Homo sapiens: one gene and its partner. The protein of the gene in region 2 interacts with the protein of the main gene of each other region in a pairwise test. Each region holds a gene or a part of one and is shown on either strand. Other genes may lie near its edges.

Region 1 (3,823 bases), on a different chromosome or scaffold from region 2:
CCTGTAATCCCAGCACTTTAGGAAGCTTAGGTGGGTGGATTGCTTGAGTTCAGGAGTTCGAGACCAGCCTGGGCAACATGGTGAAGCCCTGTCTCTACAAAAATTAGCCGGGCATGGTGGCGGATGCCTGTAGTACCAGCTACTCAGGAGCTAAGGTGAGAGGATCACTTGAGCCTGGGAGGCAGAAGTTGCAGTGAGCCAAAATCGTGCCAGTGCACTCTAGCCTGGGTGACACAGTGAGACCCTGTTTCAAAACAAACAAACAAACAAACAAATAAACCAAAAGTATTTTGAAATAATTAGATTTATAGATAGCTGCAAATAAGGCCAGGTGCGGTGGCTCACACCTGTAATCCCAGCACTTTAGGGGGCCGAGGCGGGCTGATCACCTGAGGTCAGGAGCTCGAGACCAGCCTGGCCAACATGGTGAAACCTCATGTCTACTAAAAATACAAAACTTAGCTGGAACTGGTGATGGGCACCTGTAATCCCAGCTACTAGCAGGCTGAAGCAGGAGAATCACTTGAACCTGGGAGGCGGAGGCTGCAGCAAGCCGAGATCACGCCACTGCACTCCAGCCTGGGTGACAAAGTGAGACTCCTCAAAAAAAAAAAAAAAAAAGCTGGGCACAATATGGTGAAACCCTGTCTCTACTAAAAATACAAAAATTAGCTGGGCATGGTGGTGCATGCCTGTAGTCCCAGCTACTCGGGAGGCGGAGGCAGAAGAATAGCTTGAACCTGGGGGCGGAAGTGGCAGTGAGCCAAGATCATGCCACTGCACTCCAGCCGGGGTGACATAGCAAGACCCCATCTCAAAAAAAAAAAAAAAAAAAAAAGCTGGGCACAGTGGCTCATGCCTGTAATCCCAGCACTTTGGGAGGCCGAGGTGGATGGATCAGGAGGTCAGGACTTTGAGACCAGCCTGGCCAAGACGGTGAAATCCCGTCTCTACTAAAAATACAAAAATTAGCCAGGCACGGTGGCGGGTGCCTGTCATTGCAGCTACTCAGGAGACTGAGGCAGGAGAACTGCTCAAACCTGGGAGTCAGTGGTTGCAATGAGCCGAGATTGTGCCACTGCATTCTAGCCTGGGCAACAGAGCAAGACTCTGTCTTTAAAAAACAAACAAACAAACCAACAACAACAAAAAAAAACATACGAAATTTCTATGCACCTAGCCTTCTGCAGTGTTAACCTCTTGCATAATGATAGTATAGCACTGATATTAGAAAACTGACATTGGGGGCCAGGCATGATGGCTCACGCCTGTAAGCCCAGCACTTTGGGAGGCTGAGGCGGGTAGATCATCTGAGGTCAGGAGTTCGAGACCAACCTAGCCAACGTGGTGAAACCTCATCTCTACTAAAAATACAAAAATTAGCTGGGCATGGTGGCACTTGCCTGTAGTCCCAGCTACTTGGGAGGCTGAGGCAGGAGAATCACTTGAACCCAGGAGGCGGAGGTTGCAGTGAGCTGAGATTATGCCACTGCACTCCAGCCTGGGTAACAGAGTGAGACTCTGTCTCAAAAAAAAGGGAAAGAAAACTGACATTGGGCCAGGCAAGGTGGCTCAAGCCTATAATCCCAGCACTTTGGGAGGCTGAGGCAGGAGGATGGCTTGAGCTCAGGATTTTGAGACCAGCCTGGGCAACATAATGAGTGATGCCCCGACTCAAAAAAAAAAAAAAAAAAAAAAAAAATTAGCCAGGTGGTAAATGATCATAGTCCTAGCTTGGGGAGACTGAGGCTAGAAGATCACTTGAGCCCAGGAAGCAGAGGTTGCAGTGAGCTGAGACCATGCCACTGCACTCCAGCCTGGGTGACAGAGTGAGACCCTGTCTCGAAAAATAAATAATAAGGTCAAAAGCTTTATAGTTTTCCCTGAAGTCCTGAAGATTAGTGTGTACACAATGAGTAGTATTCAAACATGGAATGTTTTAACCAGTCATCAGGTTTTCAACCCTGTGGTAGAGTAGGTTATAATTACAGTTACCTCCTTAAGCAAAAGGAGCTTACTCTCTTAACACAATATTAAATGGAGACTAAATTATTTAATTTGCAGATAAGTTTAGTATTTTATAAATAAGGTCCTACCTTGCAGCAGTCTTACCTCTTCAATGTGGATACTTCCTTTATCTCTCTTTGTTTTTGAGACAGAGTTTTGCTCGTCACCCAGGCTGGAGTGCAGTGGCACAATCTTGGCTCACAGCAACCTCCGTCTTCCGGGTTCAAGTGATTCTCCTGCCTCTGCCTCCCGAGTAGGCATGTGCACCTACAGGGATTACAGGCATGTGCCACCATGCCCAACTAATTTTGTATTTTTAATAGGTTTCTCCATGTTGGCTGGGCTGGTCTCGAACTCCCAGCCTCAGGTGATCTGCCCACCTCAGCCTCCCAAAGTGCTGAGATTACAGGCATAAGCCACTGCACCTGGCCTTCCTCTATCTCTTTATCATTATCTAACAAGGAAATGCTACACAAATATTTCAGTTTTGTTTTATAACCTGGAAGCTTTCCTAACTAGAGTTCACAACACAGGATAAAGGATTACTACACCTTGAAGTAGTTTGTCAAGCTCTTTGGAGCCAGTAGTAATCTGTATGATCTCTGACCGCCTTTGGTGGAATTCAGTTGCAGTGGTGAAACCCATTGGAACTAATTTAGCTGCCTCAGCCTGGGAAAAATAAGAAATATTAAATCAACAAAATAATATTCCTTACCACAGTGATCTTGATGGCAAAAAAATATATATAAAGAAAAAAGAAATATTAGTAAAACAAGGTGTGCAATGGGAAGAGAAAATATCAAATAAAATTACCAGGATGATTTCTCTTTAGAAAGTCATAAAAAAGGATAATCTAATTCAGAGATTCCATGAAGATCAATTTTTAAATTGCCAATTCAAGTTAATATATTAATATAGTTTTAAAAACTATTATAGATCCGGCCGGGTGCGATGGCTCACGCCTGTAATCCCAGCACTTTGGAAGGCCAAGGCAGGCGGATCACAACGTCAGGAGATCGAGACCATCCTGGCTAACATGGTGAAACCCCATCTCTACTAAAAAAATACAAAAAATTAGTCGGGCGTGGTGGCGGGTGCCTGAAGTCCCAGCTACTTGGTAGGCTGAGGCAGGAGAAAGGCGTGAACCCGGGAGGCGGAGCTTGCAGTGAGCCGAGATCGCGCCACTGTACTCCAGCCTGGGGGACAGAGCGAGACTCTGTCTCAAAAAACAAAACAAAACAAAACAAAAAACTATTAGAGATCCGTACATATGTGTTTTGCCCAATTTATGACAAAAATGACAATACAGTACACCTTCATTTCCTGCTCCATCAACCGCAGACTGTATCCCTTAACTTCCTACTTTGTAAAAATGAGGACATTTGCCCTTCAATCTTTTCTCTCTCCATGGCTACTTCCCCACCTCTATCAGCTGTACCTTTTCTTTCATATTGTCTGGCTGAGAACATTCACATTCTATTTTGTAATTACAGATAAGTGTTCTGTAATAGCACTATGGGTTGATTCTAAAATTGAAAAGTAAGTGCATTCACAAATATGCAAAAATAAAGCAACACACTCCTAAATAAGCAACAAGTCAAAGAAGAAATGACAAGGGAAATCAGAAAATGTTTTTGCAATGAATGAAAACGAAGATATACCAAAACGTATGGGCTCCAAGAAAAGCAGTGCTTAGAGAGAAATTCATAGCTATAAACAGCTATATTAGAAAAGAAGGCTGGGTGTGGTGAATCACACCTGTAATCCCAGCACTTTGGGAGGCTGAGGTGGGAGGACTGCTGGAAGCCAGGAGTTT
Region 2 (3,823 bases):
GAAAATTTATATCTGGCAGTGAATTATATAAATATTATTTGCATTTTATCTTTGAGGAATCAGAGCCACAGATTTTAAAAGTAATTCACCCCGTGTCCACAGGATTTCAAATCAGATCTACACAATAAAGCTCATGTTCCTTCTCTTGTGGCAAAGTATGGATGGAAGTAAAAGAATGTAACTAGGAGACAAGAAAGAGGATGAGAGGAAGACTCTATTGAGGAAAAAATGCCTAGCCCCATAATATCCTAAGTCGTCTAAAGAAAAACTTTGATTCACAATATATTAGCCAACAATGTTTTCATAAACTTTAGAGACAGTGAGTTTTTCCACAATATTCTTTATTCATTTACCAGTAAAAATTTACTATGAATTCAACAATAAATCAATATTAAATGTTTTCTAGCATGAATCACTCTGCTTCCCAAGATAATCACAGGCCATCCTTAAAATGCCTTTATTTTTATTAATTTGAAAATGTGTCCTTATGTTTCTTTAAAAAGTTATTGTTTTTTAATAAATGCTGACATTTTTATGGATGAAAGTATTTGATGTTTAGGATTTTCTTCAAAATAACGTGAGGGTAGAGAGGATATCTGATAGCACATAAGTTGATAATTAGTGAGTTGGGTGATACATACACAAGGGTTTATTTTGTTCCTTATTCTAAATAGTAAGGGATCCATCACCAGGTTTGGGCACGAGATTTCTCCCCAAGGAAATCTTAAATATATTTCTCAGCACTTCTTCAACCTCTTCCTCAGTGAGAGTTTTAAACTCGACCAGATCTGTATTGTCTTTATAATTGAATTTTCTATAGGTGAGGATGAAGCCCACCAAACAGTAAACCCCTTCTGGGGTCTGCAAGGAACAAAATGATGTGGTTATAAATGAAGATGTTGGAGACGTCTGCAGGTATGTATTCATAGACTCAAAATCTTCAATTGTTCGAGGTTCAAGCGTAAATAAGTATATTTTTTGGTGTTTCTTCTTTGGCAGGAGATGAGAATTAAGAAATTCTTTGTTTGTAATATACTGCTCTCTCCTGATTTGGTCCAGGTACCAGATTCCTCTCTCTTCTGTCAAGCAGAAAATGCAAGGCACCTGAGGCTGATCCTTCCCAGAAATTAATTCTAGAGGCTGCCACATCTGGGAGGAGCTTCCAGACCCAGCATCGACAATGTAATTCCTGCCGTCAATGGTCACCTGCAGGAGAAGGTGAACCATGCCAGTGCTGTATTTGTTAACTGGAGGGATGTAAAAATACCCTCCTAACATTGTGGTCTGAAAACCGATTGTGGTCAGAGCCCAGTACAGAAGTTGATTGACCTGGAGACACCACCCACCCCGGTTTCTTCTTACAATGTGATCAAAAATAGCCTCTAAGCCCAACTCCATGGCTTGCCCACAATGCATGTTAAGGTTCTCAAAGGGAACAGCCCGGATCTGGTGCTCAAGAATGTCAGTTAATGTTTCCAAGTCCAATTTGTTCCTAGAGTTCTTATAGCCAATTCTTTCAAAATATGCTTCAATGTCCATGATCCCCTAAGCAAGAAAAACAAAACATAAAAACATATCATACTTTAGCATTTGATTTCCTCGTGTGACTAATTATAGGTATAACGTATTTTAAATACGTAAAAACACAATGGTTATAAGTATCTGTCATAGTAATTCTTTTGTTAGTATTTCTACTGCATGAATCCCTTTTACATGCATAAGTTCTCTTAGTAGTCTCAGAACCCTGTAAGGAAAGTATTATTGTATCTTCCGTCTTTTAAGCATGAGGAGTTGGAAATCCAGATTAAATAAGGAGCCAAATGGTAAACAACTTGTTTGTGGTGTTCTTGGTGATGAGTAAAAAAGAGATTCCAATTGGTATCAATTATAATAGGCTTATAAACAGTTTCTGATATAAGCAGGAGAATTATACAGTAGAGTATATGGTATTCATGGTACATGACCCACTTGATTTCCCATTTAGCTGTACCTAACACAAAGCTCCTCACTCAAAAAATATATTGATTAATTCATTCATTCACTGATTGATTCAAGAAATAGTTTACAGAATACTCTTGATGTGTTTCCTATTGTTCTAGTACTTGCTTGCCCTCAAAAATATTATATTTTAATGGGAGTTGAAGGGACACAAATAGGAAACTGAATAAATGGATAAAACATGCAGTCTGTTAGATTGTGGTAAGTGCCTGGTGAAAACAAAAAGAGGGGTTAGTGGGTGCACAGGGAGAGCACTGAATTCAAACAAGGTGGTTAAAGAAAGGCTCACTAAGACTTTAAGGATGCTAGAGAATAAGTTCTGTGGATATGTGTGAGGAGGATTGTTCCATGCAGTGGAACAGAAAGTACCAGGATCCTTAGCTGGAACCTGTCCCAAGTGTTGAGGAAACATCCAGGAAGCCAGGGTGACTGGAGCACAGTCAGTGAGAAGGGGAATGGATTGAGATGATATCTGACAACTAACAGTGGCCTTGGAGCCAATGCTTATATTTTGGCTTCTATTCTAAACGAGATGAGAAATCAAAGTGAGACAGGATGAGAGAAGGGTTATAAGCGGAACAGTGTTCGCCTAATCAAAGTGATCTGTCTAGCTACTGTGTGGACAATAGGCTGCCCATATTGAGCTCTATGGGCTGTCACATAAACTATGTAGGACCACTTCAAACACAACAGCTCTAGGACCAAAGCTTGGCTGATGGGTGGCATGTGACCTAAGTAGATCATTGAAACTCTATTGAGGCATTTTTGCTGAAATCTAAGCACATGTATTATGCTGCAAGGCTAGAAGCTGGGAGGATATCAACCCAAAGCTACTGGGGAGAACCCACTGAAGAACAATACTAACAAAGAATTTACTAGTAACTTGAGCAGGGGAATACGTGACTCTTAGTACCAGCATAGGAAGTTTCATGGTTTCGTCGAAGACTTTAAATACACGTTGTAGCTCAGAAGACAGTGCCCCAAGGTAAAAGCTTCAGAAGTCAGTTTTTCTTTGGCCTTCTCCTGGCCTCCTATCTCTCAGTCCCAATATCCCTCAAAGCTGGCCAAACAAACTAGAATCTCTTTCCCCAAGGCAGAACCTAGAAATCAGAACTCCTTTTTCTCAAAACCAGCCACAAAGTCTAAAAATATTACTCTAATTTGCCCTCTCCCTTTCTGTGTATGAATTAGCCATAAAGAAATTATCCAACTTACCTTGTTGGATTGTAGGTCATAAGATCCCTATACCCAGAAGGAAGGAGTACATGCTCAGAGAGGTCAAGAGGAATCTAGACAGACAGGTCTTGCTGGGTTTCCCCAGTCCATTGGCATTAGGTTATGCCTTTTGCCTCAATCATATTTTTATATGTGCCCATACCTTGTCGCACCTAAGCATAAAAAGGACAATTTCCCCTGTGTGTTGGGGTCTTTATTCTGAAGACTCCAGCATACACACTCCAAACAAATCTGCATGCCTTCTCTTCAACTGATCTATCTTTTGTGAGTTGATTTTTCAGTAATCCTTCAGAGGGTTTCTGGCCCTTACTCATAGGAGGAAAAGCCAACAGCACAGAATTAAGTGATAATGGAAGAAAACATTGCTTTTTTTGAAGCTTTAAGACGAAACACTTCAGCATCAGGCTATAGCAACAGATTTAGACCTGAAGAAAAAAAAAATTTGCCAGAGCCAACAAAAAGTTGAAAGAGAGAGTTAAGATCTCAGCTATTCTCAAATGAAGAAAAGGCTAAAAGCAGCAGGATACACCAGAAGTTGAACTTCTGAGATATCTGAGAAGTTTCAAAAAGAAAAAAATAGCATTAAACA

What was found.
Region 1: the proteins of NAT2 (region 2) and RAD51 interact in binary tests that used the Homo sapiens proteins (3 or more experiments, as listed by UniProt).

Annotation. Positions count from the first base shown.
Region 1 is NC_000015.10:40,705,030-40,708,852, reverse strand, and holds part of RAD51 (DNA repair protein RAD51 homolog 1), read right to left. Parts: intron 2,677-3,823; coding exon 2,559-2,676; intron 1-2,558.
Region 2 is NC_000008.11:18,397,720-18,401,542, reverse strand, and holds the end of NAT2 (arylamine N-acetyltransferase 2), read right to left. Parts: intron 1,546-3,823; 5' UTR 1,540-1,545; coding exon 667-1,539; 3' UTR 325-666; downstream 1-324. UniProt on the Homo sapiens protein: Catalyzes the N- or O-acetylation of various arylamine and heterocyclic amine substrates. Participates in the detoxification of a plethora of hydrazine and arylamine drugs, and is able to bioactivate several known carcinogens.